7 linked regions of the Homo sapiens genome follow. The protein of the gene in region 3 purifies or fractionates together with the protein of the main gene of each other region. This does not show direct contact. Each region holds a gene or a part of one and is shown on either strand. Other genes may lie near its edges. The genes, in order: SPIN1, TXLNG, CUEDC1, TRMT61B, STXBP4, HECW2 and CCDC102A.

Region 1 (4,247 bases), on a different chromosome or scaffold from region 3:
AACTGGGAAACATTAAAAAAAAAAATCTTATTAAAGCATGCCATAAATTCCACTTTTTACCTCACTGATTAAAATAATCAAGAAAGATAAAACATACATAGGTGTTAATATTAGGTTGGTGAAAAAGTAATTGCATTTTTTGCCATAAAAGCAGTGGCAAAACTGCTATTACTTTGCACCAGCCTATATTACTTTCATTTTTTTGTATCCTAGCATTGAGAAATAGTGATTTTTCACTATAGAATCCCATTGTTTATTATTTATGAGTAAAAGCATTATAAGAAATATTCAAAGCAAGAATACTTGTGAAAAGTATAAAATACCCATTATTTAATTATATTTAAAAGAATTTTTTTAAGTTTAAGATCTTGTAAGTTAAACTTTCTCAATGTCAAATTGCAAACTTCAATATTTAATATATGTGTGATATTGATGACTGCCTCCTCTTCTTTCAGGTATTATTGAATGTTATCAAATAAAAATTCTATTTCTTTCTATGCATATCTGACATTTACATGTGGTGAAAAGGTTACTTGGCCCAAAAAACTTTTCAGAATCAAGTTTAACACATCACATGTTGCTCATCAGCACAAACTTTACAGTCAGGAGTTGCACATAAAGGGTTTATTTTAAATGTTTTAAGGATAAGATAGAGTTACATCATAATTATAAAAATTACTTACAGAATTAACAGATTTATATTGTGTATACTTCTAAATGCAGAGAACAGGGAACTGTCTACACATTGTATAAAATAAAATTAAAATTAAAAATGAATTCAAGCTTGAAAGATGAGGTCATTTACCTAATTTTAAAATGTGAACACGAAGACCTCTGACCTATACACATTCATTCCAACTGCACTAATGATGGAAAAACACAAAGAGCGCAGCATTTCCAAGGAACCACAGACATTTCAACCATAATTATTTTGTTATAATAATTGTTCTGTTTTGTCTTTGGAGAACTTTCATTTTGTTAAGACAATCAGCTTAAGAGTGTTTTCAGGCACTACAATTTGTAACAATCGGAACAGTCTTCTAATGGGTCTACAGTGTTCAGAGATTGAAGCCCAATGCACTTCGTGGTTTGGCACATAAAACAATAAAAGAAATGAAATCTGGTTTAGAAGTAACTGTGATTTTTTTTTAAGAAAACACAGTCCCTTCAAATGCTGCATGACATTTACAACTGGAAAATCACCTTCTGTTGGCACTACATTTGCTTCACCAGTGCATTTTTATCCTAAAACCACTAAAACGGCACAGTAAGCAAATATACAGGAAACTGAAAACAAATAAAAATAAAGAAAACAAAAAAACCTAAATATCTTTAACATGCAATTTTAGTCAGTTACATTGAACATTCTACTTAGAATAGAGCATGCAAAAAAGGATGGTCTGCTTTTAAGATTTTTCTCTGAAGTTTTACGTGGCAGCCTGACATCACACACGCACGCACACACAATACAATAATACTAGAGCAGGTAAATGAGAAAGGCCGATAAATTTTATACATAGATTCATGTCTTGTATTGTCACAAGTCCCATGATACTTTTGGAAATTAATGTTGAATTCCTGGAACAAGGAACCAACATTCAGATACCAGAAAAATGCAAGCAATGCATGCAGATCTGACACATGAGCCTAAAATGAAGCCCAAGATACAAGGGCTTGGGAGCAGAATTAGTCATAGCGTCATTACATGTGGTGTAAGTCACCAAAAGAAAGACAGAATGGGGGAAAATGGGGAGAAAAAAAAACAAACCTTCCCTTTCCCTCAGCCCTAAAGGCAATAAATGAACAATGATTAAACTCATCGTCATCATCACCATCATCATGTTGCATTCATCTAGAAACTGGGAGACCATGTGGTATAAAAAAAGTCATTAAAGTTGCTTGCAGAAAAACCACAATGCAAGTCATTAAGTAATGCTAGAAATGTCTCAATTGACCCAACCCTCAAGATACTTCAAAATGTACTTTATTTTTCCACGCAAAGTTACCGAGCCAAGTTCTGCACAGTTGGTGCATGCTGGACACACTTGCAAACTCTTGCGCTGTAATGTCAGTCTGGACTCTGGGAGCCAGGCTCAGCTTTGAGATTTACATGCAGGGACTCTTAAGAGTCAACAGGAAAACACATAACAGATCTGTAGAATGACACCTGTTCACATACGAGAAGCACCTATGACTTGGGTATCACACTGCTTTCAGAAGCTTGTCCCTGGCTGCCCACAGTGAAGCACGAGGGACAGAGCGACTGCAGCTGTGGACAGAAAACTGAGGTACTGTGTTTACATGGTGAGTGGTCGTTACCATCCAACAGCACAAGGCACAAAAAATGGGCATCAAGCAAACCATGCATAACGAGGCCTGGAAACCATCAAGAACAGCCACAAAAGAGGTCACTCAGACCTCTGATTCAAACTTCTGGTGTTTGAGTGACAAGCATGCACGTTTAGGCTCTGCCCAAATATCAGGGAGGATTTCCAATCTCCACAAGAGACTGGTTTCACATATGGCCTTTCTCCTGGCTGTCAAACCACCAGGGTTCCTCCAAAACAAAATGAGAGCAGCTGTTTTGCTGATCAACCAATCACACTAGCAGTTCTATTTCAGTTTAAAACAACCTTGCAGGAATAAACCACATAAAGACTCCGTGGCTAAGGGCTGCTATTACTTACACCTACCAAGCGAACACAAACGGCTGGCTCTTCTATGGTAACGCTTCACTGGCATGCAAACCCCAAGGGGCCACTGAATGGAATGAATCCACATGAACAGCATACCTGGAGCAGGAACATGCACCCCACAAGAGGTGTCAGGAGACTAAGCTGCTGTTTGTCTAGACATTCTTTGTGAGGAAAAGCCAGGGGTAGGCAGGAAGGGGTGGGTTGAAAGTCTCTGACCATAATCATACATTAGCAATAATAGTAATAAAACTTTAAAAGTCCCAGAGAGCTTGTTAGAAGGCAACAATGCCACTCAAAACTTATACTTCCAATATAAAAGCATTGTATTCTTCCAGAAACTTAACCAAAAACACACAAACCAGTGATGGATTGTTGCCTTTTAAATCCATGTACTGAAATCCAGATTACTGACTTGTACACAATGGACCATATGTGCTGTCCAAAATACACCTACATTACACTGTGTGGAACAAGAACCTGGGCTTTGCAAAAAAGAATTTATGATTAAAATGTAACCCCCCCCCAAAAAAAAATGAAGCTTAGAATTAAAGGTAGCCTTTTACCCAGATTGTTCACCAGATTGTAAAATTCTAATATGGGTCATTAACTGTTCACAAATAATTCATATTTGGACTTATGGTTTAAGGGCTCCAGATTGAAAAGGTGCTCTGAACTTCTGATTTTTTTTTTTTAAACAAGCTGAATGTTCCCATATGGTTCCTGTGCCCAAAGTTTACTTTTAAATAAAGAGCAGTGATATCATATCCATGACTGACTTGGGTAAAGCACTCCTGTTAAACTCAAGAAAATTATGTCACCCCCATCCTAATCCACAAAGACTGCCAGTGGGGTGTGTGTGGTGTGTGGTGTGTGTGTGTACACTTGTATCTGTGTGTATATATTATATATGTATACACACATATAGATATAGGTAGATACAGATACATACATCTCAAAAAAGGCAATAACGAAAACATCAAACTATGCTTGCATTGTGGCGGCAGAATAAGAGAGTTAGGGTGAGGGGGAAAATGGTTAAGATCTATTACAATTTTAAATGACTATGATACTAGCTTAACTTTTACCAAACTTGCCTGTAACTCCCCTCGAAATAGACAGACTTCTTTTAAAAGAAAGGGGTTCTCCTTACACAAAATGCTTTGTGTTCACATCAATCTGTACTATTCAGAACAAAACCAGTTCTGCTGGCAGAGATTGTGGGTTCGCAGGGACATTTAAGCTTTCATTAAACTGGAAAGCAATCAAGTCTTTATGTCTACAAATAATACATTTCATAGTTCCACAAATTTGGCAGAGTTTGTGATGACATCTAGGATGTTTTCACCAAATCGTAGACATAAATATGGAAATCATCATCAAACTTGATGAAATAGACGGAGGGCTTGGCTTCTACTTGATGAATGACCATGCCAGTCCTTTTCGAGCCATCTTCTTTGGCATATTCCACTTGTTTGCCTACCAGGCTGTCCACAACTTCTCCTGGTTCCCTTTCTGCTGGAGGTGAATCATCTATATTAAAAAAAAAAAAAA
Region 2 (3,996 bases), on a different chromosome or scaffold from region 3:
CTCAAACCGAAGTTTGAGAACTGCTGTCCTGGTTGTGGTGGGAGCAGGAATAGAGAGACTAGAAGGCCAGCTCTGTCAAACCATGACCAGAAAGGGGTCCACATCTTGGCAGCAATAAGCAGGCAGATCCACCTCTAGGGAATACGCCCTGGGACCAGGGAGGAGAACAGGGAGAAGAGTGCCACTTCCTTCTTATTCAACTACACCTAACAAATAGGCATCTTTCCCCCTTTTTGTTAAGTGACAGATCTGCCAATCAGTGGAATCCAAATGGGTGGTGAGGGACAACTGGTATAAACACTTTCCCTTGACCTTCATTGCTCTGGCTCATTCAGAAGCCTCTGTAACAGTATTTAATAGACTACTTCCTCATTTAATTCTCAGAACTATCTTATAGGCAGGTATGATAAACAAGCAGCCTCAGTGATAAGGTAATTTAAGTACGATGTCCACGGTCAGGAACCTAGGAAAGGAAAGCAGAGACTGAATCCTTGTCTTTCTCTGTAAAGGGCATACTCTCTAAAGAGCATGCTCTTCCCAGGTTATGTTAAAAATAAACAAGTGCGGCCGGGCACAGTGGCTCATGCCTGTAATCCCAGCACCTTGAGAGGCCAAGGCTGGAGGATCCCTCGAGCCCAGGAGTTTGAGACCAGCCTGGACAACATGGCAAAACTCTGTCTCTAATAAAAAATAATAAAAATGAACAAGTGTAGTGACGGTCACACAACTCTGAATATATACTAAAAAAAAGTGAGGCCGGGCACAGTGGCTCATGCCTGTAATGCCAGCACTTTGGGAGGCTGAGGTGGGTGGATCACCTGAGGTCAGGAGTTCAAGACCATCTTGGCTAACATGATGAAACCCCGTTTCTACTAAAAATACAAAAAATTAGCCGGGCACGGTGGCGCATACCTGTAATCCCAGCTACTCGGGAGACTGAGGCTGGAGAACTGTTTGAACCCGGGAGGCAGAGGTTGCAGTGAGCCGAGATCGCACCACTGCACTCCAGCTTGGGCAACAAGAGTGAAACTCCGACTCAAAAAAAAAAAAAAAAATTGAATTATACACTATAAATGGGCAAACTGTATGGCATGTTACCCAAACAAATTACTAAATAAATGAAGCCAGAGAAATGATGGAGTTCTAAGGAGGGATCATAAATTGGAGGCAGGGTAAGTTCTAGGAGTTGTCCTAACTACTACCTGGGAGCAGGCAGCTAAAGGATCCAGAGTAACTGTCACAGCATGTAAGAGCACAAAGAACACACAGAACCATTAGTAGGTAAATGACAAGAAAAGAGAGGCAGACTAGTGCTAAACTAAGGGATGAGGGAACCTGATCTCCCCCACTGGGGAAGAAACCAAGAATGAGTAAAAGGATCCGGGAAAGGTCTACTTTGGACACAGCTTCTTTAGTCTCATAACCTAGCAGTATAAGTGCTAATATTGTACATTTACTGGTAACATCTATATTAGACTGTGTACATCATTTGCCTTTTAATAAGTGAATGTTAATGACTGCATTAAATTTTGCATTTAACTTCTGTGGCTATTTCTTTTATAAAAATAAATTATTATTTTTATTTTTTTTTGAGACAGTGTCTCGCTCTGTCGCCCAGGCTGGAGTGCAGTGGCGCAATCTCGGCTCGCTGCAAGCTCCGCCTCCCAGGTTCACACCATTCTCCTGCCTCAGCCTCCCGAGTAGCTGGGACTACAGGCGCCCACCACCACGCCTGGCTAATTTTTTGTATTTTTAGTAGAGATGGGGTTTCACCATCTTAGCCAGGATGGTCTCGATCTCCTGACCTCGTGATCCGCCTGCCTCTGCCTCCCAAAGTGCTGGGATTACAGGTGTGAGCCACCGCGCCCAGCTAAATTATTCTTTTATATAAATAAAGGATGCTGGATTCCATGATTTGCAAAATCACTTCTAGTTCTAAAACTGTAACTCAATGAATATCTGCAATCTGAAAGATACTTGTATTAGTGTAAGTACCTATTTCAGCAGCAAAAGAGCAGGACATTCAAAGATTTTAATGCCCAAAGCCACTGAAATATACTTGGACCTGATCTATTTACAGGACAGGGGCTGGGTCACACAACTAGCATCTTTAAGCCACAGACTCTTAGATGTAAAATGGTCCTTTACTTTTATGGGTTACCTAAGTGAACATCCCTGTCCCAATTTTATGAAGTCATCCTTCCCTAGATCCATATGGACCAATCCTGATACACCTCTGAAACATCAAGCCTTCTTTTTATTTGTCTTACTTCCCCAGACCACTTCAACTCTTTGCTAACACCAGGTTATATGAACTTTATTTACAAGAAGTTAAAGAGAGTCTCTCTAAACTCTCTACCTTTCAATTTATTCAAATTACACTTGGAGGTACTGTTGCAGGAAGTTGTAGCATGGCATACCTCCTAAATCATAAATCTCAAGGTTAACCTAGGGCCTAGGTGAATGAAGCAAAAGATATTAAGAGGCTCAAAACTCCTCTGGTCCCCAAATTACAATCAATTTTCGATATCCCCTAATCATCCAACTCCATCCCTCATAATTTGTCTTCGTTTAGCAAAAACTATTACTATTACTATTTTATCTACCAGCATGTTTTGCTCACTTTCAACTAGGGGCACTTATGTGACCTTTACTATCTGAGGAAATGTTAACATGAGAGATACGAAATATGGACAATGGCTTTGGAGCCCAAAGAGCCGAAACTCTGAATATACCACTTAGCATCTCCTGTGTGGCCATAGGGAGGCCAACCTGTCAGTTTCCTTATCTGTAAACTGGGATGTACAGTACTTACCTTCTTAGCGCCATAAGTAGATATAATAGGTATAAATTGCTGATAGATATAAACTGCTGACACATAGCAGAACTGTTATAATATTTGAATGAAGACATTTTACAGGCTGCGTGCAGTGGCTCACGCCTGTAATCCCAGCAGTTTGGGAGGCCAAGGCAGGAGAATCATGCTTGAGCCTAAGAGTTTAAGACCAGCCTGCGCAACATAGGAAGACCCTGTCTCTCAAAAAAAAGAAAAAAAACAGCCAGACATGGTGGCACACACACCTGTAGTCCTAGCTACTAGGAAGGCTGAGGCAGGAAGATCACTTGAGACCAGGAGTTCAAGGCTGCAATAAGCGTTAACTACACTCCAGCCTGGGCAACACAGGGAGATCCTGTCTCAAAAAAAAAGAAAAAAAAAAAAGATATTTTACAAAATGCATTCATTCTCACTTTTAATATGGCCCATTTTGCAATCCAAAAGACCCATAAAGAAATGAGTTTCTAAGCTACTGGCACATCTTTCTTGCCAAACCATTCTACTACCTTGAGAGTAGGGAAAGAAGAAACATGAAAAAAAAAAAAAGTAGCCAGTAAATATTACTCAGGACAGACTATAAGGTGGGAAGTAGGAGATAACAGAGGTCATTCTAGGGACGTTTTGGAAATGCAACACAGAATGCAAATCAACACCCTAAGCAATAAATGCTAATACAATTATTTTGATAGCATAGGAGGAAAACACCAGTTATTTTATGTATCTTTTCCTTCAAGTAATAAAATGTAAGTATTTATAAGTGCCAACAGAATTTCAACTAGGAGGTAGATTCAAACATAAAAATGTACTCCCAGGGTCTTAATGGATCTTAAAGGTCACCTTACCTATTTCTACCCTCTTCTAGAAATGTCCCATCTCAATGTTGATGAATATGATATTAAATTTGTATATTATTGTATACTTTTTTTTTTTTTTGACACGGAGTCTCCCTCTATGTCACCCAGGCTGGAGTATAATGGCACGATCTTGGCTCACAGCAACATCCGCCTCCCAAGTTCAAGTGATTCTCCTGCCTCAGCCTCCCGAGTAGCTGGGATTACAGGCATGCATCACCATGCCCAGCTAATTTTTGTATTTTTAGTAGAGATGGGGTTTTACCATGTTGACCAGGCTGGTCTTGAACTCCTGACCTCAGGTGATCC
Region 3 (3,996 bases):
CTTTTATCCTCCGATCACCGAGCTGACATGGACCTCTAGGGGCCTCTACTTCATCTTCCTGTCTCCAGATGAAACCTCTTAAACCACAAAGACAAATGAAACTTGTTCCCATTTCTGAAGACCTTCAGGGGAGGCCATTCCCCTCTGTGCCTATGAGTCACTTTTCTTACATCTCACATCCTATCTGGAATGTCTTCCTCATACCTTACTTGAATCCTCCCTCTGTAGTTTAAATTCATTTGCCTCTGGTTCTAAGTGCAGAGAGACAAGAGTGAATCACTGTGTTCTGAGCAATGACTCTTAAGGGACTTTTATGTCTTCTTCACCATGTTCACTGCAGGCATTACAAGAGGTGGCAGTGTTTCTCAGCTGTTAAAAACCACAAAGGCATCAGGAAAGCTGACCACACTGCCCAGTTCCTGCCTCACCCTGGCAAGGGTGCTACAGAATCCAGAAAACCTGACCCTTCTCTGAAACCCACACCGCTACTTAGCTCTACTCAGAGTTCACCAAGGGGGAGAACAATGTGCTCCCATGCCAGATCAAAAGCCCAGGAGGCAGCAGCCACTTTATCTTGTCCTCACTCAGCTCAAGCGGCCCCTCCTCCAGGAAGCCTTCCCTGCCCCAACTCCTCTTCTGGCTGGCAAAGTGCCCCCTTCCTCAGTGCTTTGTCTTATCGCAGCACTTGCCACAGAAACTGAAATTCCAGGCTAACATGTTTGTCTCCCTTACTAGACAGGAGGCATCTTGAAGGCAGGGGCCATGGCTTGATGACCTTTGTGCTCCAGGATGGGCCCCAGCAGAGTATCTGGCACTTGGCCAGTGGTTCTCAGCAGACTCTGTTAAGCTGAACCCTCCAGGCATGTTCCAACGATGCCTGGACATTGCACTGGCAGCCCTTCAAGCAGGACACAAATCCCACAACCCCCCCAGCTCCACCCTCCCCCACCACGACCACCCCCGAGCTCAGTAGGGGTGTCTCTGACATACTTTTTTTTTTTTTTTTTTTTTTTTTTGAGGTAGGGTCTTGCTCTGACACCCAGGCTGGAGTGCAGTGGTGCAATTTCAGCTCACTGCAACCTCGGCCTCCCAGGCTCAAGCGATCCTCCCACCTACGCCTCCTGAGTAGCTGGGACTACAGATACATGCCACCACGCCTAGCTAATTTTTGTAGAGATGAGGTTTCACCATGTTGCCCAGGCTGGTTTAGAACTCTTGAGCTCAAGTGATCTGCCAACCTCAGTCTCTCAAAGTGCTAGGATTACAGGCATGAACTACCACACCCAGCCCTGACAGTTTCTCTAAGGGTGTGGGCCTGCAGCCAGACTTCCTGAATTCAAATCCTGGCTCTGCCACTTTCTAGCCATGTGATCTTGGGCAAGTTATTTAAACTCTTGATGTCTCTTATGTCTCTATTTCTTCACCTGAAAAATTGGTATAATATCTCATAGGTCCTGTGAAGATTCAACGAGCTAATCCATGTGAAGTACTTGGAAAGGGTCCGACCCCTCTGTGAGTGCTGCAATGATTATTTCCCAAGCCTATCCCTTCACAGAAACCCTTGGCCCCCACAGCTTCCACTCTTTTCGTTTTTGAGACAGAGTCTCACTCTGTCACCCAGGCTGGAGTGTAGTGGCGCGATCTCGGCTCACTGCAACTTCTGCCTCCTGGGTTCAAGCGATTCTCCTGCCTCAGCTTCCCAAGTAGCTGGGACTACAGGCGCCTGCCGCCAAACCTGGATAATTTTTTTGTACTTTAGTAGAGACGGGGGTTTCACCATGTTGCCCAGGTTGGTCTTCAACTCCTGAGCTCAGGCAATCTGCCTGCCTCAGCCTGCTAAAGTGCTAGGATTACAGATATGAGCCACCGTGTCCAGCCTCTTTTTTATTTTTTTATTTATTTATTTTTTTTTTTTTGAGACAGAGTCTCGCTCTGTCGCCCAGGCTGGAGTGTAACGCTGTGATCTCTGCTCACTGAAACCTCCGCCTCCTGGGTTCAAGCTATTCTCCTGCCTCAGCCTCCTGGGTAGCTGAGATTACAGGCGCCCACCACCATGCCCGGCTAATTTTTGTATTTTTAGTAGAGACAGGGTTTCACCACGTTGGCCAGGCTGGTCTCGAACTCCTGACCTCAGGTGATCCGCCCGCCTCGGCCTCCCAAAGTGCTGGGATTACAGGCGTGAGCCACTGCACCCTGTGAGCTTGCACTCTTGACTGCCTATTGGGCCTGCCCCGATCTCCTGACTAGGTTCCCTTCCTCCAGGGAACTCTGCCCTGTTCCTCTGGACCAATGTTAGTATTAACTTTATGCCATTCAACCCTTCTCACTGGTTATGCCTCCTCACCCCTCCCCCAGCTTACAGGGCAAATTCTCCAAAGAAAAGGAAAAAGAGTTGGTTCCACAGCAGGGCTACAGATGCTGAGTCATTCTGCCCCCAAATATGCTTAGCTGTCACCCATGACATTTCAGTCTCCCCACCCCCGCCTCCACTGTGCGGTCCTCTCTGCTCATCATTCAAGAGCCTCACCCCACCCCCTCCCACTCTTCCAAAATCCACCCTCAGCCTCTACAGTTTTTACCAAAGATTTTCCTTAATAATGAGCCTCAGAATTTGTGTACCGCTGTGCAGAAATGGCAATAATAATAATAGCTTCGATGTAATGAACACTTCCTCTTTGTCTGGCATACACATGAGATCTCTTTTAACTCTTTCTAAATATAGGAAACTCTGGCACTTACAAAGTCTTAGAGTAAGATGGAGAGCTGGGATTCTACCTGGAGATGCCTAACTTCAGATCTTACACTCTAAACAACTAAGCTATGATGAAAATGTGCACAAAATAACTCAGTTGCTTCCTGGGGGTGGAAGTTAAGCCAGTGGAGTTGGAACTTTTTTTTTTTTGAGACAGAGTCTCACTCTGTTGTCCAGGCTAGAGTCCAGTGGTGCAATCTCAGCTCACTGCAACCTCCGCCTCCCGAGTTCAAATGATTCTCCTGCCTCAGCCTCCCAAGTAGCTGGGGTTACAAGTACGCACCACCATGCCCGGCTAATTTTTTGTATTTTTAGTAGAGATAGGTTTCACCATGTTGGCCAGGCTGGTCTCGAACTCCTGACCTCAGGTGATCCACCCGCCTCAGCCTCCCAAAGTGCTGGGATTACAGGCAGGAGCCACCACGCCCAGCCTAAACATTTTTATCTTACCAAGAATTCCTCAAAGACCCTTGGTGCTGCCACAATGCAAATGAAATGGTCACATTTATAAGAAGGGAGTTTATATTTACAAGGACTGTTATCACATTTATCATTTATGACCTGCTTTAAAGATAAGACATTTAGCTGCATCATCAAGAGTCTGTGATAATGCGCTGACACATCAGAGGTTCTGGGAGCCTGGAAGCCAAGGGGATCAGAGAAACACTGAGTGAGCCAACACAGCTAGCATCCTGAACTCACCAACCCATGGTAGCCAGGGCCACAGCATGACTGAGAAGTCATGGCCACTGGGGAAGGTGAATCCTCAGTCACTGCAACAAGGACTTTGCATGCCACCAAGACACTTTCAATTCCCAAGTCAAGGACCACTGGACCACAGCGCTTTAGGGTCTCCAATGCCCTTCATTTTATTTTATTTTATTTTATTTTATTTATTTATTTATGTTTTTTTTTTGGAGACAAAGTTTTGCTCTTGTCATCCAGGTTGGAGTGCAATGGCACAACTTCGGCTCACTGCAACCTCCACCTCCCAGGTTCAAGCAATTCTCCTGCCTCAGTCTCCTGAGTAGCTGGGATTACAGGCACACGCCACCACACCCAGCAAATTTTTGTATTTTTAGTAGAGACGGGGTTTCACCATGTTGGCCAGACTAGTCTTAAACTCCTGACCTCAGGTGATCCACCCCCCTCGGCCTCCCAGAGTGGTGGGATTACAGGCATGAGCCACCGCATCCGGCCTCCAATGCCCTTTATAGCTCTTGCTTCCTGTAAGTGCAAGAGCC
Region 4 (4,485 bases), on a different chromosome or scaffold from region 3:
TGTAGTCCAACTACATGGGAAGCTGAGGTGGGAGGCTTGCTTGATCCTGGGAGATTGAGGCTGCAATGAGCCATGATCACGCCACTGCACTCCAGCCTATGTGACAGAATGAGAATCTGTCTCAAAAAAAAAAACACACACACACAACTAAAAACCTATAAAACATCTATATTTAAACAGAGACCTAATCATTCTAAGTCACTGTTTATCTGTAAAATATGGATAACCTGAAAGATAAGTTGTCCATAGTAAGTGAAAAACATATATAAAGTTTTCAAAACAATGTATGGTATGTGGTAAGTGCTAAATAACTGGTGCCTATGAATAATAAGTCCCATTTGTAATTAATTCATGTTTCCAAAATGTATTCCCCAAACATTTTTTTTTTAAGATGGAGTCTCGCCCTGTCACCCAGGCTGGAGTGCAGTGGCACAGTCGCAGCTCACTGCAACCTTCGCCTTCCAGGTTTAAGCGATTCTCCTGCCTCAGCTTCCCAAGTAGCTGGGATTACAGGTGCCCGCCACCACAACCAGCTAATTTTTGTATTTTTAGTAGAGACAAGGTTTTGCCATGTTGGCCAGACTAGTCTCGAACTCCTGACCTCAGGTGATCTGCCTGCCTTGGCCTCCCAAAGGCGTGAGCCACTGTGCCCAGCCCCCAAACATTTAATTTGTGTAGTAACACTGAATAATTCTAATGTTCTTTCAAGCTGGTTAAAAAGATTCTGAGGGGATAAAAGAGATTCAAGAGCCTGTTACATCTTTTGTTACAATTTTTAAGGTGATTATATCATTCTTAAGTTTCCCCCCATTATTTACTGTAGCCCAGATTTCCTTATTATTTTTTAAGACATATACAAGCCATTATAAGATGTATTTAAAATGGACAGATACATAAAATTTATCTTAAAATGCATATTTTATTTCAGTAGTCAATGACCATCAATCAAATAAAGGAAAGAAAACTAATTTCTTGAAGAAAGACAAATCTATGGAGTGGTTTACAGGAAGTGAAGAATGAGATGGCCCAACTAAACCAATTTGGAATCATTAACTACAAAATGTCAAACTAACTGCAAGACAAGTGTCAAAATGGGATGTTTAAGCAGTTTTGCTATGTTATACATCTTTTAGTTGTTATTTTCAAAATTATATGTATAAGTTATATAAGTCATAGTAATAGCTAAAAATGCCAATCTATGGAAGCAGTGATTTTCAATATAAAGTTCTATTTTGATATTTTTCCATCTTCAAGTCAGTTACTGTCATCTGGAGTACTCAGTTAAGTTGTGGTTTGACCTTCCTCAACTTGACAAGAAAAGCTAATTTAAGAGAAGAAAAACATAAAGTCATTATATTAATTAAAAGAAAAAACACCATTTAATATGTTCTGAAAACATTACTCACCTGTATGACCAGGTTGCCAGTGTACTGGTCTAGCAACATAGGGAAATGATCCATATGGAAAATCAGAATGCGATTCTTCTGTTGTAAAAAAATATATGTACTATAAGCTACATAAAATATTTTCTATTTTTTTCACAAAACTGTTAAAATATGAGTTACTCTCTTTATTGTAAGTTTTTTCTTTATTTATTTCCTTGCATATGTTTTAGAGCTACTCTGCCAGTTATTATACAGAAACTATTTGTCAATGATTATGTAATAAACATATGATTTTATAACCAAATGGATAAGCCTATATCATAAATCAACTGATACTTGAAAACTTGTTCATGGCCTAAATAATGTGTATATATGACAAAGACCTAAACTCAGTTCTTTCAAGAATTCCAGCAGCATCTTAGAAGTTGCTTTTTGGAATATTAGCTATTTGCCTATCAGGTCCCATTAATAATCAGTGATCTAAATATAAAACATCCTTAATACATTTAAATTATTTCACAAACCAAGCTCCTTGTGACAAGTAAAATATGAATATTATAAAAAGCTCAATTCTTCAAAGGTATCAGAGTTTTAAGTAAAAGGCAGGAAAAGTCATTATTCTGTGCCTTATACATCTTAACAGAATAAATATCACACTTTTCTATAGAAAATTGCTGAGGAATATTTTTATAATCTATTGGTCAGTATACTCAGGAACTCATTCTCCATTCATTACTGCATGCATAAAGTAAAACTGAAGCTCACCATGGTCATCCTCTTGAAACAGCTCACCTTTAACTCCAATTTTCTCTTGAGAATCTAGTTGTACATCTGTGTTGATTTTAGATTCTACTTTTTGAGCTAAAATTCCATTTTTCTGTTTTGCAAGGCAAACCAACCAATCTCTGACAATGACCTCGCTTATCTTTTCACATGAAAGAGCAAGTTCACAGGTGCGAATTCCATCTAAAAGTTCAATAACCTGTGTGATGCTTTCAGAAAAGTGAAAAATTTACATTTCTACTAAAATAATAACATTATATTTATTTAAGTTCCCTATACCTCTTGCCCACATTTAAATACCATAGTTAAATTAAGGCAGGAGAGGGTTTAAATATGCAAGTTAGGAGGCATAAAAAGTACCTTCACAAAATTCTAAGTAAACAAACACAGAGACCATAATTTAACATTACTGTTCACATTATACTTTTAAAACATTTCTTCCAGATTGTCAGAAGAAAATATGCATCTTATATTACTATTTATGTAAAAAATGATTTAAACAGTAATATAGGGTTGGGCGTGGGTCACGCCTGTAATCCCAGCACTTTGGGAGGCTGAGGGGGGCAGATCACTTGAGGTCAGGAGTTCCAGACCAGCCTGGCCAACATGGTGAAACCCTGTCTCCACTAAAATACAAAAATTAGCCGGGTGTGGTGGCGCATACCTGTAATCCCAGCTACTCAGGAGGCTGAGGCAGGAGAATCACTTGAACCCAGGAGGCGGAGGTTGCAGCGAGCTGAGATCATGACACTGCACCCCAGCCTGGGTGACAAAGCGAGACTCTGTCTCAAAAAAAAAAAAAAAAAAAAAAACGAAAAAAGTTTAAAAAAAAAAAACACTAAATAAATATACAGTAATATAAATGAACTTGGGACTTGTCATTTTAAAACAGTTGTATAAGATGCCATATACACTTTATTCAGTTACAAAATGAATATTTTGGCTGGGCGTGGTGGCTCAAGCCTGTAAGCCCAGCACCTTGGGAGACCAGGTGAGCAGATCACCTGAAGTCAGGAGTTCAAGACCAGCCTGGCCAACATGGTGAAACCCCTTCTCTACCAAAAATAGAAAAAATCAGCCGGGCGTGGTGGCGGGCGCCTGTAACCCCAGCTACTTGGGAGGCTGAGGCAGGATAATTGCTTGAACAGGGGAGGTGGAGGTTGCAGTGAGCTGAGATCATACCACTACACTCCAACCTGGGTGACAGAGTTTTTTTCTGTCTCAAAAAAAAAAAAAAAAAAAAAAAAATTTAGTTTGATACTTAAGCAAAAGTGCACTTAAAAGTTACATTACAAAGAAAAACAGTTATATTACTCACTTTACTACATATACAGCACATACACCACCATGCTTAAGATGTGGGTAAAAAACAGGCAAAGTAACATGAGGATTTAACATATCCAAAGCTACCTGTGTGGGGGAAAAAGAGAACTGGATCAGTCTGATTCCGTTTAAATAAAGCATAAGTTTTCTTATTGTGGTGAAATGACACACTTTTGGACAGCAATCAAAGTATTTCATTTTTTAGAAGGTAGTATTATTAACTATCATTTTACCACTCCCAAAAGGGTATGTTAATTATTATACAGTTGGGCAATGTGGCTTCTGCCTGTAATCCCAACACTTTGGGAGGCTGAGGCAAGAGGATCCATTTGAGGCCGAGTTTGAGAACAGCCCAGGCAACATAGCGAGACTCTGACTCTATTGAAAAAAAAAAAAAGTAGCTGGATGCAGTGGCACAAGCCCGTAGTACCAGCTATTCAGGAAGCTGAGGTGGGAGGGTCACTGGAGCCTAGGAGTTCGAGGCTGTAGTGACCTATGACTGTGCCATCATACTCCACCCTGGGCAAGAGTGAGATCCTGTCTCAGGGAAGAAAAAACAATTTGTCATAGTACTTGATGATACTGAAAAATCATAATGATATGTCTTGTACTTTGCATATTAATATGGAAATATTGATTTGGCTATGTATGTATATATGAATATAACCAAAGAAAGATTCCTGTATGCCTGTATTATCAATATTGCCAAGTGTAAAACACGCCATTACAACATGAAAAATTTAAACATTTGAGACAATGTGAATTTCCTTTTTTTTTTTTTGAGACAGGGTCTCGCTCTGTTGACCAGGCTGGAGTACAGTGGCACAATGTCACCTCGCTGCAACTTCCACCTCCTGAACTCAAGCAACCCTCCCACCTCAGCCTCTCGAGTAGCTGAGACTACAGGCAGGCGCCACCATTCTCAGCTAACTTTTTGTATATTATGTAGATACAGGTTTTGCCATGTTGCCCAGGCTGGTCTTGAACTCCTGGA
Region 5 (3,996 bases), 3.0 Mb from region 3:
CATCTTTTAAAATTACATTTATTAAAAATATAAAATGTAAACAATAACTGACACTTGGAACTACTATTTTTATTTACTGTTATTTTTATTTCCTTCTTTAAGTTATTCTTTATTTTTTGAATGGCTTACAACAAGGATATATACTTTGATATATTATTTGGATAAAGAAGGAAAAATATCAAAAAAGTTACCATGTTCCAGTGTACCTTCTTGGCATCTAAATATCAGCTCTTTCTAATTATGTCTCCTTTAATGTCATTTTACCCTTTATGTTATTTTCTTCTTTCATCTTCATTTGCTAAGGTATCAACAAATGTTGCAATTTAAAAGAGAAAATAACATAGATCTGGTGTTTCACAAAGAAATTCAGCTACATCCTTTAAATAACTTCTTATGACAACTCCTTTGTAAGCAAATTGACAGGCAGTAGAAATAAATACACTTATTTTCTGCTATAATTTAAAAAGAAAGATGACTCATAGCAAAGAAGCTCATAGTACATATTACATAGTACATATATTTCATGTTTTTTTTATTGCATTGGGAAGAGTACCAGTCCAGAGGGTAGATGCCCACTAGACATATGACTTTGAGCAGCCACTTACTCTGCTCCCTAGTCTTCATATGTACGATGTCAAAATCATTCATAAAATGATCTTTAAAGGTTCTTTCTTGGCTCTACAAATCAAAAATTTTATGGCAGGCTTATTAAACTACAAGTCTCCCAATGTTTTTTGAGGGAACGATTTTCTTTTTAAAATATACGTCCACCTCTAAGATCAGTATGACCCATGAATGGGATGGGGTAGGCTGCAGTTGGTCATTTGGGAGGGATTAGAGTGGAGGGAAAAGTGTACTAGTGTAGTGACATTTCACATTAAGGTCATTTCAAAAGAGGAAGAGGGCACAATGATGTTGGCTGCTCAGTAAATAATCTGTCTGGTTTCTGTGGACTGACAAGTTAGAAATGCCTACTATTTATTTATTCACTAAAGCTAATATTAAAAATGTAAATATTTCTTCCTATAAAGTTGGATGTATTATACTTGAGGAGACACAAAAATGACAGCATTTAGAAACTGGTAACTTGTTTTATACCTTATCACAGCAGAGATTCCTCAAGATAACATCAGCTATTTATATAATCCTAAGGTTGTTTAAGAAAATTGGCAAAATCAGGAATGACTATTTTCCCTGGGCTAAACTTAACTGATCATTTTTAAATGACATGAAAGTTTCAGGAAACCAATATATAAAAGATCAAAGAGTTATAGTCATCCCTCAGTATTTTCAGGGAACTTGTTCCAGGACACTGCAGATACCAAAATTAGAAGATATTCAAGTCCCTGATATAAAATGGTGTAGTATTTGCACATAACCTATGCATATCCTCTCCTATATTTTAAATCATCCCTAGATTACTTATAATACAAAACACAATGTAAATATGTTATGCTATATTATTTAGGGCATGATGACAAGAAAAAGTGTGTACATGTTCAGTAAAGACACAGCCATTGTAGGCCTAATGTTCATTTTCAATCTGTGATTGGTTGAACCTGTGTATGTGGAACCTGCGGATACTGATGGCCAACTGTATTTTATTATCTTTTATTCTGTACCCAAAGGCAATATTCTGTTTACTAGTGCATGTTTTTTTCTTTCAAGAATCTAACGAGTTCAGAAATGCTACTCATTTGTCTTGGGGGTGTTACCAAAATGCCAGGGGTTCGGTTTAGGTCCTGTTGCTCACTACACAGAAAACCAATCACTGAAAGGAGTATTGCCAGGGAAGAAGGCTTTAACTGGGTGCCGCAGCCAAGGAGATGGGAAATTTGTATCCCTCTCCCTGACGAGCTAAAATTAGGGGCTTATATGGCAGGGAAAAAATGTAAGTATGTGTGGGAAAACAGGAATTAGGGAGGGGTAAGGAAGAGGAGTTGGTCAACAGGTAGCAAGTGATTGGTTAGGCCAGCAGTCCCCAACCTTTTTGGTACCAGGGACCAGTTTTGTGGAAGACAATTTTTCCACGCATGGGGGTGTGGGGGATGGTTTCCAGATGAAACTGTTCCACCTTAGATCATCAGGCATTAGATTCTCATAAGGAGCATGCAACCTAGACCACTCATATGCCTAATTCATAATAGGGTTCTCACTCCTGGGAGAATCTAATGCTGCCACTGATCTGACAGGAGGTAGAGCTCAGGTGGTAATGCCCACTTGCCCTCCACTCACCTCCTGCCGTCTGGCCGGGTTCCTAACAGGCCATGGACGGCTACTAGTCTGCAGCCTAAGGACTGGGTACCCCTGGGTAAGGCAGTCATGATGGCTGAAGGGTCTGGTATCATATTGTCCAGATGCAATGATCTGGTAAGTTTCAGTTTCTTGATAGTATCTGGGAGGCCTGATGGTTGGTTTCCTGAGAAAGTAACTCAGATAAGACAAATTTAACTTTCTCAAGTTTTAACAATGGGAGAATCAATTTCTGTGCTTATTCAAAGAAATGATTAATATCAGTTCTATGGGACAATTGGTCCTATTTCAGGATGCATAAGCATCTGCCTGTAACACACAGCCCAACTCAGTGGGAAACATCAGAAAACTACTTCAAAGAAAGTCTTAGTCTTCTTGAAAGGAGTCTTCATCAGCACAACAGCTCACTGCTCTCAGAAGTTTCCTTAGGCTACCGGACTGCCTTCTGTTTGCTTTCATTCATGCATTCATCCACCAAATTTTTAACTCAGTACAATTATGTGCAGGTACAACACTAAGGGCATGTGATATTATGGTGAACAAGTCAAGATCATTGCTCTTTTGGTATTTACATTCTAGTGGTGGGAGAAAAACAATAAAAAAAAGATACAATTAAATGAACTAGATTTCAGATATTGAAAGGTGATAGCAAATGTGACTAAGGAGAGAAGGGCTAATTTAGACTGGGGAGGGTGTCCCAGCTAAGATCCAAATAATAAGTCATCTGTGAAAAAAGCTGAGGGACAAAGCATTCCAGGCAGAGAAAAGGTCTGAGGGCAGTAAAACAAACTTGAGGTGTTTAAAGAAAAGAAAGAAGTGCAACTGGAGTGTGGTGAACAGGGAGAGAGTGGTAGGAGATAAGGTTAGAGAAGTAGGCAGGGTCTGGATTTCCTAGGGTCTTATGGGCTATGGTAGCAAGTTTGGAGTTTTGATCATATTTCACTTAACCTGACTATTCTCAGGAGACCTGAATTTGCCTTTCCCTTTATCTCTTACCTTTAACCTTCTAAAGGTTAAAAGTAAAGGCTCTAAAGGCTCTCCACTTTTGTACTTTCCCTAGTTTTCTGCCTTTGCCTTTAATCACATAATTAAATCACGTAATTAGACTGTGCTTTGGCCTGAATCATGTGAGACTGTCTGTCAGTGCATTTGAGATATAATATTGTGCCTATATCTGTATCTGCATCTCTATCTATATTTATATCTATTTACATCTTGACCAGGACTGGCTGCATAAATTGCAGGGCCCAATACAAAATGAAAATGCAAGGCCCCATGTTAAATAATTATTAAGAATTTTTAGCAGGGCATGGTGGTATGCGCCTGTAATCCCAGCTACTACTCAGGAGGCTGAGGCAGGAAGATCACTTGAACCTGGGAGGCAGAGGTTGCAGTGAGCCGAGATCATGCCATTGCACTCCAGCCTGGGTGACAGAGTGAGACTCCGTCTCAAAAACAAAAAATAATTTCAAGATGCTGACAGTAGAGCATTAAACAAACACAGGGCTTATCTAAGTGGGGTAGGAATCAGGACTTGGAACGAACCTGAGGATCAGCTAAAAAGTTCCTGGATAGAAGCCTTTCCAGAAGACATGGCCACCAGTGTGCCACATCAGTTTACTATCGCCATGGCAACATACAGATCTTACCACCCCTTTCCATGGCAATGACCCTATGAACTGGAAATTACCACACTCATCCTAGAAATTTCTGCATAAACTGTCCCTTAATTTGCATATAATT
Region 6 (3,996 bases), on a different chromosome or scaffold from region 3:
AGAGAAAGAATCGACATGAGGTAAGTTACTGTTCCATGGCCCAGTTGTACAGTGGTAGTCATTGATTTGCTATAGCTGTTTTGAAATTTCACTCCCCTTAACCCAATTTTAAGGGTCATTTTTTTTCAGTTCAATCTGAACATTCATTAGGCATCAAGCATGTACCAGACATCTGAATAGCTACTTGATGAATAGTCACTACCCCCAGGAGCTAATGGGCTAGTTGGGGAGCCAAGTACACAAACAGATAAGTTAATATAAAGCGATAAGTGATAACATAAGATTGGTAACACTTAAAATTCATGTACTTTTAAAATCTATGTCACACTTCAATTTAAGAAAAGATAAGGTAGGGATAGGGATTTAGGTGTCAGAGCACACATGAGGGGCCTTTTCTTTGACTGAGAGATTCAGGAAAAGCTTTTTGCAGAAGATGATGCCTACATTAAATCTTTCAGGATGTTTAAAAGCAAGAGACGTAAAAAGGAATACATGAAGGAGGAGAAGGGGAAAGAGAAAGGAGAAAGAGAGAATAACATGAACAAAATACAAGGCATGGATGTGTACAGGAAACTCCAAGCATATCAGCAGTTTGAGAGAGTTAACCTTAAGACAGAATTTCTAGAGAATGAGGCCAGCAAGGGAGCAGGCCTTAATATCATCCTAAGGAGATTGGTGATTCAGAACTACCAAAAGATTTTAAGACAGGGCATGACATGATCAGACGTGAAATGTGAATTATAAACAGCTCCTCTGGAAGTCCCAGTGTGAAGGATTATTTAAAATGGGGTGGGATGAGGGGTGGTTATCATTAGAGGGTAGAGACCAATGAATAGACCACTACAGTAATATGGCCAAAATAAGATAAGGGCTCTAACTAGGGCTGTGCTATTAAGGTTGGAGAGAAGAAGATGAATTTGAAAATCATTTAGGAGGCAAACATGTAGCAATCAGGAAATGGTTTTATTGGGGGAGTATAAAGAAGGATATCTAAAACAGGGGTGACAAACGAACTCATGTCAAAACTAACTGTAATTAATTGCTGGGCTTGAGCACTATAAGTTAAAAAGATTTCTGAGGCCACAGTGAGTTCAGTGGGAAAAAGTACCACAGGTGATTTGTGAACTCTACCCTGGGAATGATGGGGTAGAGTAGAGATGGGGAAGAGTAGAACATGTACCGTGTGTATTTGTCATCGCTGTTTAAGGGTGACTCCCAATTTCTGACCAGAGTGGCCTGAGAATAGTGGCACTATTAACTGTAACTGGGCATATGGGAGAAGGTATACTTTTACGTAGGGAAACTTGATGAGCTTAGTCTTAACCATGTTGATTCTGAGATCCTTGTAAGACATCCGAGTGGAGATATTTGGTGGACTGTTGACCATGTGAGGCTACACCTTAAGGGAGATCATGACTGAGAGTACAGATTTGGGAGTCAGAGGAGATAAGACAGGAGAAGAAATTCCCCCATGAGAGCACACTGAGTGAGAAAACGAGGGGCCTGGTGATAGAAGCTTCAGGTACACCAAGACTTAAGGGCAAATCAGAAGAGGGACTCATGAAGGGACAGAAAAGTTAAAAAAAAGAACCCGCAAAGTACAGTGTCATAGATGCCAGCTCTGAAGGAAAGACACAGGAATAAATGGTGGCGGGTGTGGGTGGTGCACAGTGTCAGAAGCAGCAGCATGATCCAATAAGATACGGACTAATCAGTATTCTTTAAATGCCTCCACAGGTTTTCTGGTGGGAAAGAAACCAGGCTGAAGTGTGCTTAGGGTGTGAATTTGAGGTAAGTGTAGACAGTCAGTATAGACTAGTTTTTCAGGAAGCTTAAATGAGAAGATAAGAGATAAGGCAATGAAATGGGAAGATGCAAAGTGGGCCACAAAGAACCAAAGAGACAGAAAACGGCACCTGTTCCCCAGTGCTACAGCTGTGAAGACACTGAAAGAGAAGAAGGCAAAAGTCTTTCTACTGACCCTCCCAAGGGCCCACAAGAAGCATTTTGTTTGCTTTCATTTGAGGTCTAGGCTTCCATTTTACAGTAAGCAAGTGCGTGGCCTCAGTTAGGGTATGAGCTGGACAGAGCCAAGTGATAATTCAGTGCATTCTCATCGCAAATTTGAGCTACTATCCCACAGACAGTTGTCTTCTGTTCAGCCTTGTAAATGGCTGCTGATTATAGGACAGAAACAATTAGCCCTACATTTTACAATAACTGCAATCTTTCATTAACAATGAAGAAAAAGTTCTGTGAATGCTGAATTTTCATTTTCCATAATAAATTACTAAGGGCATAGAGAAAGTTTAAGAAACATATGGCACTGTCCACCCTTGACAAACAAATAAAAAACAAAACCAAAACAAAGGAAAATGAAGATTTGAACGAGGAGTAAGCATTTGAAAATATGCATCAAGCCAAATATAAAATGTGTCTCATAAAGGAGAGGGGGGCTGTGAGTCACTAAGACTAACCCACAACAATTCTATTAATAATCTGCATTAATACCACAGGAATCCCAGGGCTGTGTTTGAAGTACAATTGTTTTAAAGAAACACATGCTGCAACAAATGAGAATAAATTTTGGGGGGTAGAGCAAAACTAAAAATCTGGGGGCTAAATAGGTCAGAGGCAGGAAAAACACAGTAATCATATTTGAAATTGCATTAGTTTCAGAAATCTAAACCACTATTAGGTTTAATAACAACAAATTTGAGATTGTGAACAGATAAACAATGACTTTGACAGAAGAATTTTTTCAAAAAAGTAAATACTGCATTTTACATGCTAATTATGCAGGCAATAAAAATATTCTTACATTCTGAGAAGAGCCTTATAAAAGGGCCGTGTGAAGAAGGCATCCAACAAATACTGGTGTATTAGTGCAAGACCAAGGATCCTACCACTGAATCGGAACCTGTGAAGGAAACACATGAGATGGCTTACATGTCATGGAGCAGTTTCTAGGTGGTTCCATATGCTTTCTAGAATGCCTTCCAGCGCTAACCATCTAAATTTTTCCAATATTAATTGCCTACTAGGTAGTGAGAATTTGTAGGCACCATGGGCTGTGTCTTCATCAGGCCAGTGGTACAGTTTGTATACTTGTCCCTGCCCAAATGTCATGTTGAATTGCAATCCCCATTGCTGGGGGTGGGGCCTGGTGGGAGGTGTTTGGATCATGGAGGCTGATCCCTTATGGCTTGGTGCTATCTTCATGATAGTGAGTTCTCATGAAATCTGGTCATATAAAAGTGTGGCACCTCCCTCCAACACACACACACACTCTCTCTCTCTCTCCCTCCTGCTTTTGTCATATGATGTGCCTGCTTCCCCTTTGCCTTCCACCATGATTGAAAAAGCTCCCTGAGACCATCCCCAAAGCCCAGTGATTTGGGTGCTATGCTTCCTGTACAGCCTGCAGAATCATGAGCCAATTAAACTTCTTTTCTTTATAAATTACCAGTCTCAGGTATTTCTTTATAGCAATGCAAGAATGGGCTAAAACAGCCAGTAATTCATACCTACTTGTTGAAGAATCAGTTTCACTCATATTTAGAGACCCTGCTCCACCTTCACTGCATATCAACAATGTAGCACCCCACATTCATGAATCCCCTGTGAGCATTTCAGTGACATTTCCCCAAACCACTTCTAAGAGATGTTGACAGATGAGACCTCTGGAGGTGGGGAAAATGCTATTCCCTCCTAGTGTGTATGCATGAATATTAGCAGAATTTCTCAATACAAACTCAGTAGCAATTCCTTTCTGAGGAAAGGCCCAGTCTCAGATCAAGAAAGTTCCTATCCCTATTCTCTCTCAAGACCCATTCCTGATATTTTCACCATTCAAGAATTGTGCACATGGACATTTGGGGGAGTTTCCTTCTGGGACATTCTGTTCTCTAAAATTTCAAGGCTCAATTCTATTCTGAATCACTTTGGAAATTTTATTAAATATATTTGTTATGACTGGATTTGCTGCCTGAGATG
Region 7 (3,996 bases), on a different chromosome or scaffold from region 3:
TCCCAGGCCCTGCACTACTGATGCAGCCATCCACCTCCTATCCTTCTGTCCCCATCAGTCTGTCCATCGGACCATTCGTCCAGGGAGATATTCATCTGCCCATGGAGACAGTCACCCACCACTCCCCATCCATTAATCTAATCAGCAGCCCATCTAGCATGCCTAGCCATGCCTTCCTGCTCTCCCGGACACACCTATCTTCCCGTCAACCTGGCCTTCTTTCTCCCTCTGTATTCGTTCTTCCACCCACTGACCCAGTCAGCTGTCCATCCATCTGTCCACTCTCTACCCATCCAGCCATCATCTGTTCATACATCCATTGGATCCACCCATCCATCTGCCCGCCCTGCCTCTCTCTCCCATTCATCCATCCATTCATTCCTTTACCCATTGGTTCATCCATGCACACATCCATCTTGTCTTCTGTTCATTTTTCTTCCCATCTTCCCACCCACATGTCCATCCTGCCATCCATTCATCACGCACCTACCCACTCTATCCTGGGCGACTCCTGAGAGACAGGCTTGTGCCAGGCACCAGGGGCTGAGAATGGAGAAGCCAGGATGGCCCTGCGGCCCCCACTCCTCCCTGGCCAAGGTCTGTTGCTGCCCCTGCCCCTCTGTGGTCCTCACCTCGTCCTCAGCCTGGGCCAGCTCCTTCTTGAGCTCCTCCACCCGCAGCCGCAGCTTCTTCACCTCAGCCTCGTGCTGCTCCACCCGCCGGTTGGCATGTGCCAGCTCTGCCACCTTCTCCTGGAACTGCTTCTTCAGCTTGCCATGCACATGCTTCAGGTCTGCCAGCTCCTACAGGGCACAGGGATGGGGTGGGAGGGAGGAGGGAATCAGTATCAGCTTGGGCGCCATGCCAGGGAGTCCCACGAGGTCAGGCAGTTCTAGGGATGCTGGGTGTCTCTCCTTCCCAGAATCTCTCCATCTGTTGTCTGAAGTATCAGCAGTAGAGGTTTGGCTGAGCAGCCAGAGGCTGGAGGTGCCTTCCAGGGAGGTGAGAAGGCTGGGTGGGTGGAACCTGTGGCTCCGGTTTGGATGTGTAACTTTCAGATGCTACTGGATCTACCCTGGAGCTGTTGGAGCAGGGTCGGGGTTTCCGGGGAAGGATGAGGTCTGGAGTCTTCAGGGGCGTATGGCATTGAAAGAGCTGGGTTGGGAATGAGCTAGGCTGGGGAATGGGTGGGTGTCTCAGAGCCCAGAGTGGCTGGGAAGAGGAAGGGCAGCCAGCAAAAGAGATGCCCACCCTGGAGCTCTGTGAGTTCTCTAAGCCTCAGTTTCCATTTCTGTAAAATGGGAATAGGCATTGCCTAAAGGTCTCTTGAGTCCATCCTTTTTGTTCCATCTCTACTGACTGCAACCTGGTCCAGGTCTCCTCCCTCTCTTGTTGTCCAGGGAATGTCAACAGCTTCCCCCCAGCCTGTCTTCCCATCCTCTGCCCACACAGCCTGCTCACACTCCCCTCCTGCTTTAAACTCTCTCGAAGAGTCCCACCACTCGTGCCTCACTTACCACATCCCCCCGCTCACTCCCCTCCAGCACACTGGACTTGTTCCTCCAAAGCTCTGTGTCTCTTTCACCACGGACATTTATTCATGTTATTCCTAACTTCTCTCCATCCCCTCCCCTAAATCCGCACACTACCAGTTAACGGCTGCTTTTCCTGGAGAACTCAGTTTATTTATTTATTATTATTTTTTTGAGACGGAGTTTCTCTGTCACCCAGGCTGGGGTGCAGTGGTGCAATCTCAGCTCAGTGCAACCTCTGCCTCCCGGTTTCAAGTGATTCTCCTGCCTCAGCCACCCGAGTAGCTGGGATTACAGGTGCCCACAATGCTCGGCTAATTTTTGTATTTTTAGTAGATATGGGGTTTCGCCATGTTAGCCAGGCTGGTCCCAAAATGCTGACCTCAGGTGATCTGCCCACCCCAGCCTCCCAAAGTGCTGAGATTACAGATGTGTGCCACTGCGCCTGGCTGAGAACTCAGTTTAAAATGTCACTGCCTCCGGGAGGTATTTCCAGGACCGTGGGCCTAAGCCAGGTCTCCTAGTATCCCCTCTTCTTGCTGGTGACCATGAAGCTGTGTGATTGGCATGAATCTGTGTGACAGAGAGAGCCATGTGTACATCCCCCAAGTAAGTCTTCAGCTCCATGAGGGGAAGAGGGGAGGCCACATCTGTCTGTTCAGTGCTGTGTCTCTGGCACCTAGAGTGGAGCTTGGCACATAGTAAGTGCTCAATGAATGCGGCTACTATAATTACCAACTGGTCTAGCACACAAGGTGCTGAATACATGCAGCTACCATAATTATCACCAGGCCTGACACATAGTAGGGAAGCTGCGCTCTGGCTGGATGGGGAGGTGGCAGCCCCAGCACTGGCCACTCCACTCCTTGCCCCACCTTGTTCTTCTCGAAGAGCGCGGCCTGGCTGGCCCTCAGGTCGCAGTCCAGTGCGCTGGCTGTTTGCCGCCGCCGCCGGGCCAGCGCCTCCTCCAGGTCTCCGACCTGTGCCCGCAGCTTCTTGTTCTCCCGCTCAAGGCCCAGTTTCTCTGTCTCCAGCCGCTCCCGGCGGCCCCACTCCGCAGCGTTTTCGGCCTGCAGCCGCTCCATCTGCAGCAGGGCAGGGCAGAGTGAGGACTCCCAGCGGAGGGGGCATGCAGGGCCTGAGCTGGATGCCCCCGCCACCTCCTGGAGCCATTTTTGGCTCCAGGAAGCAGATCCAGCTGCATTGGCTGTAATTAAGCTGGGCTCATTTCATGGTGTACAGGATGTGAGGGCGCTTCTGGCCTCTGTGTGGGAGAGAGGCCTGCCTCTTGCAGATCAGGACACCATTGGATGTGGCTGGCCCCGCTCAGAGCACAGTCCTGGCCCCTGCCCTGTTCCCAGTGACCTGCTGATGGAGCAGGGCCCCAGGACCCCTAAACCCAGGTCCTCCTGGGTCCCATCCATGGCCTCACCTCGCCCCTCAGCTCGGCCATTTTCCGGTCCATGCTGGAGCGTGCACCGAGCTCATCTTCCAGGTCCTCAGACATGCGGCCCAGCTCGTCCTGGTGCGCCTCCTTCAGGATGCTGAGCTGCAGGGATAAGGCCCCACCTGGTCATGAGAACCACCAGGATATAGCCTGGAACCACCTCCGGGGGTGGGCGCCAGTGCAGGAGTGCTCAGCGTGGAGCCAAGGCAGCGCCCAAATGGGGCAGGCACCAGGTATTCCAAACAGACCTCGAATCTGACCACTTCTGCTCCTCCCAATGTCTCTCCTCCTCATTACTGTCTAGCCTCCCAGTGTCTACTCCTGGCCCTTCTCTGTCAACCCGTTTTCTACAACAGCAGCCCAGAGGGAGCTTTTAACAAAGATGAATGCAATCATACCACCCTCCTCCCACAAAGCCTCTGATGGCTCCCAGGTGCCTTAGGGTAAAGTCCAACTCCTCTCTACGCTCTCACAAAGCCCTGCACGATTGGACACCTACCCGCCGCTCCCCCTTAGTTCACTGTACTCCAGGCACCAGGGACTCCTTTCTGTTCCTCAGACACACCAAGTTCCTGCCCACCACAGGGCCTTTGCACATGCGTGGATCTTTCTGAGACACTTCTTAGGACTGATTTTTCTTATTCTCAGGCCTTGACCTAAAGGCCCCCTCCTTAGGAATGCCTCTTCTGCCCACCTGGCCTGGAGGAGGGGCCTCCTCATCCCACTCCCCACTGGAAAGCTAGCCTGGGAGGACGGGGAGCTTGTGCGTCTGTCCACCTTTGTGTCGTTGTATGGCCTGGGCACAGGGCCGCCCTCAGTGTACAGTGACTAATTCCAACACTGCTCTGCACACAGGTGCATCGGCATTGCTTGGCGTGCATTTAAGACAATAACATTTCTTGCGGTATACAGCAAACCCCAACAAACTGCTGCTCCCTGTAACACACGGATGAGTTTTCAACACATAATGTTGAGGGAGAGACACCAGATACAAAAGAGAACCTTTATAATTTTCTA

Evidence for each region.
Region 1: the proteins of CUEDC1 (region 3) and SPIN1 purify together in Homo sapiens (affinity purification with mass spectrometry; one large-scale study listed by BioGRID and IntAct). This does not show direct contact.
Region 2: the proteins of CUEDC1 (region 3) and TXLNG purify together in Homo sapiens (affinity purification with mass spectrometry; one large-scale study listed by BioGRID and IntAct). This does not show direct contact.
Region 4: the proteins of CUEDC1 (region 3) and TRMT61B purify together in Homo sapiens (co-immunoprecipitation; one large-scale study listed by IntAct). This does not show direct contact.
Region 5: the proteins of CUEDC1 (region 3) and STXBP4 purify together in Homo sapiens (co-immunoprecipitation; 2 studies listed by BioGRID and IntAct, with this or other methods). This does not show direct contact.
Region 6: the proteins of CUEDC1 (region 3) and HECW2 purify together in Homo sapiens (co-immunoprecipitation; 2 studies listed by BioGRID and IntAct, with this or other methods). This does not show direct contact.
Region 7: the proteins of CUEDC1 (region 3) and CCDC102A purify together in Homo sapiens (co-immunoprecipitation; one large-scale study listed by IntAct). This does not show direct contact.

Annotation. Positions count from the first base shown.
Region 1 is NC_000009.12:88,475,057-88,479,303, reverse strand, and holds the end of SPIN1 (spindlin-1), read right to left. Parts: intron 4,227-4,247; coding exon 4,027-4,226; 3' UTR 610-4,026; downstream 1-609. UniProt on the Homo sapiens protein: Chromatin reader that specifically recognizes and binds histone H3 both trimethylated at 'Lys-4' and 'Lys-9' (H3K4me3K9me3) and is involved in piRNA-mediated retrotransposon silencing during spermatogenesis.
Region 2 is NC_000023.11:16,792,872-16,796,867, reverse strand, and holds part of TXLNG (gamma-taxilin), read right to left. Parts: intron 1-3,996. UniProt on the Homo sapiens protein: May be involved in intracellular vesicle traffic. Inhibits ATF4-mediated transcription, possibly by dimerizing with ATF4 to form inactive dimers that cannot bind DNA. May be involved in regulating bone mass density through an ATF4-dependent pathway.
Region 3 is NC_000017.11:57,948,575-57,952,570, forward strand, and holds part of CUEDC1 (CUE domain-containing protein 1), read right to left. Parts: intron 1-3,996.
Region 4 is NC_000002.12:28,848,922-28,853,406, forward strand, and holds the end of TRMT61B (tRNA (adenine(58)-N(1))-methyltransferase, mitochondrial precursor), read right to left. Parts: intron 3,579-4,485; coding exon 3,487-3,578; intron 2,378-3,486; coding exon 2,151-2,377; intron 1,690-2,150; exon of another isoform or gene 1,485-1,689; coding exon 1,407-1,484; exon of another isoform or gene 1,322-1,406; coding exon 1,278-1,321; 3' UTR 1,021-1,277; coding exon of another isoform or gene 929-1,020; 3' UTR 900-928; downstream 1-899. Other genes in the region: SPDYA (speedy protein A), read left to right, coding at 929-1,020.
Region 5 is NC_000017.11:54,974,865-54,978,860, reverse strand, and holds part of STXBP4 (syntaxin-binding protein 4), read right to left. Parts: intron 1-3,996. UniProt on the Homo sapiens protein: Plays a role in the translocation of transport vesicles from the cytoplasm to the plasma membrane. Inhibits the translocation of SLC2A4 from intracellular vesicles to the plasma membrane by STX4A binding and preventing the interaction between STX4A and VAMP2.
Region 6 is NC_000002.12:196,222,951-196,226,946, forward strand, and holds part of HECW2 (E3 ubiquitin-protein ligase HECW2), read right to left. Parts: intron 2,921-3,996; coding exon 2,822-2,920; intron 1-2,821. UniProt on the Homo sapiens protein: E3 ubiquitin-protein ligase that mediates ubiquitination of TP73. Acts to stabilize TP73 and enhance activation of transcription by TP73. Involved in the regulation of mitotic metaphase/anaphase transition.
Region 7 is NC_000016.10:57,515,661-57,519,656, forward strand, and holds part of CCDC102A (coiled-coil domain-containing protein 102A), read right to left. Parts: intron 3,082-3,996; coding exon 2,965-3,081; intron 2,618-2,964; coding exon 2,408-2,617; intron 804-2,407; coding exon 633-803; intron 1-632.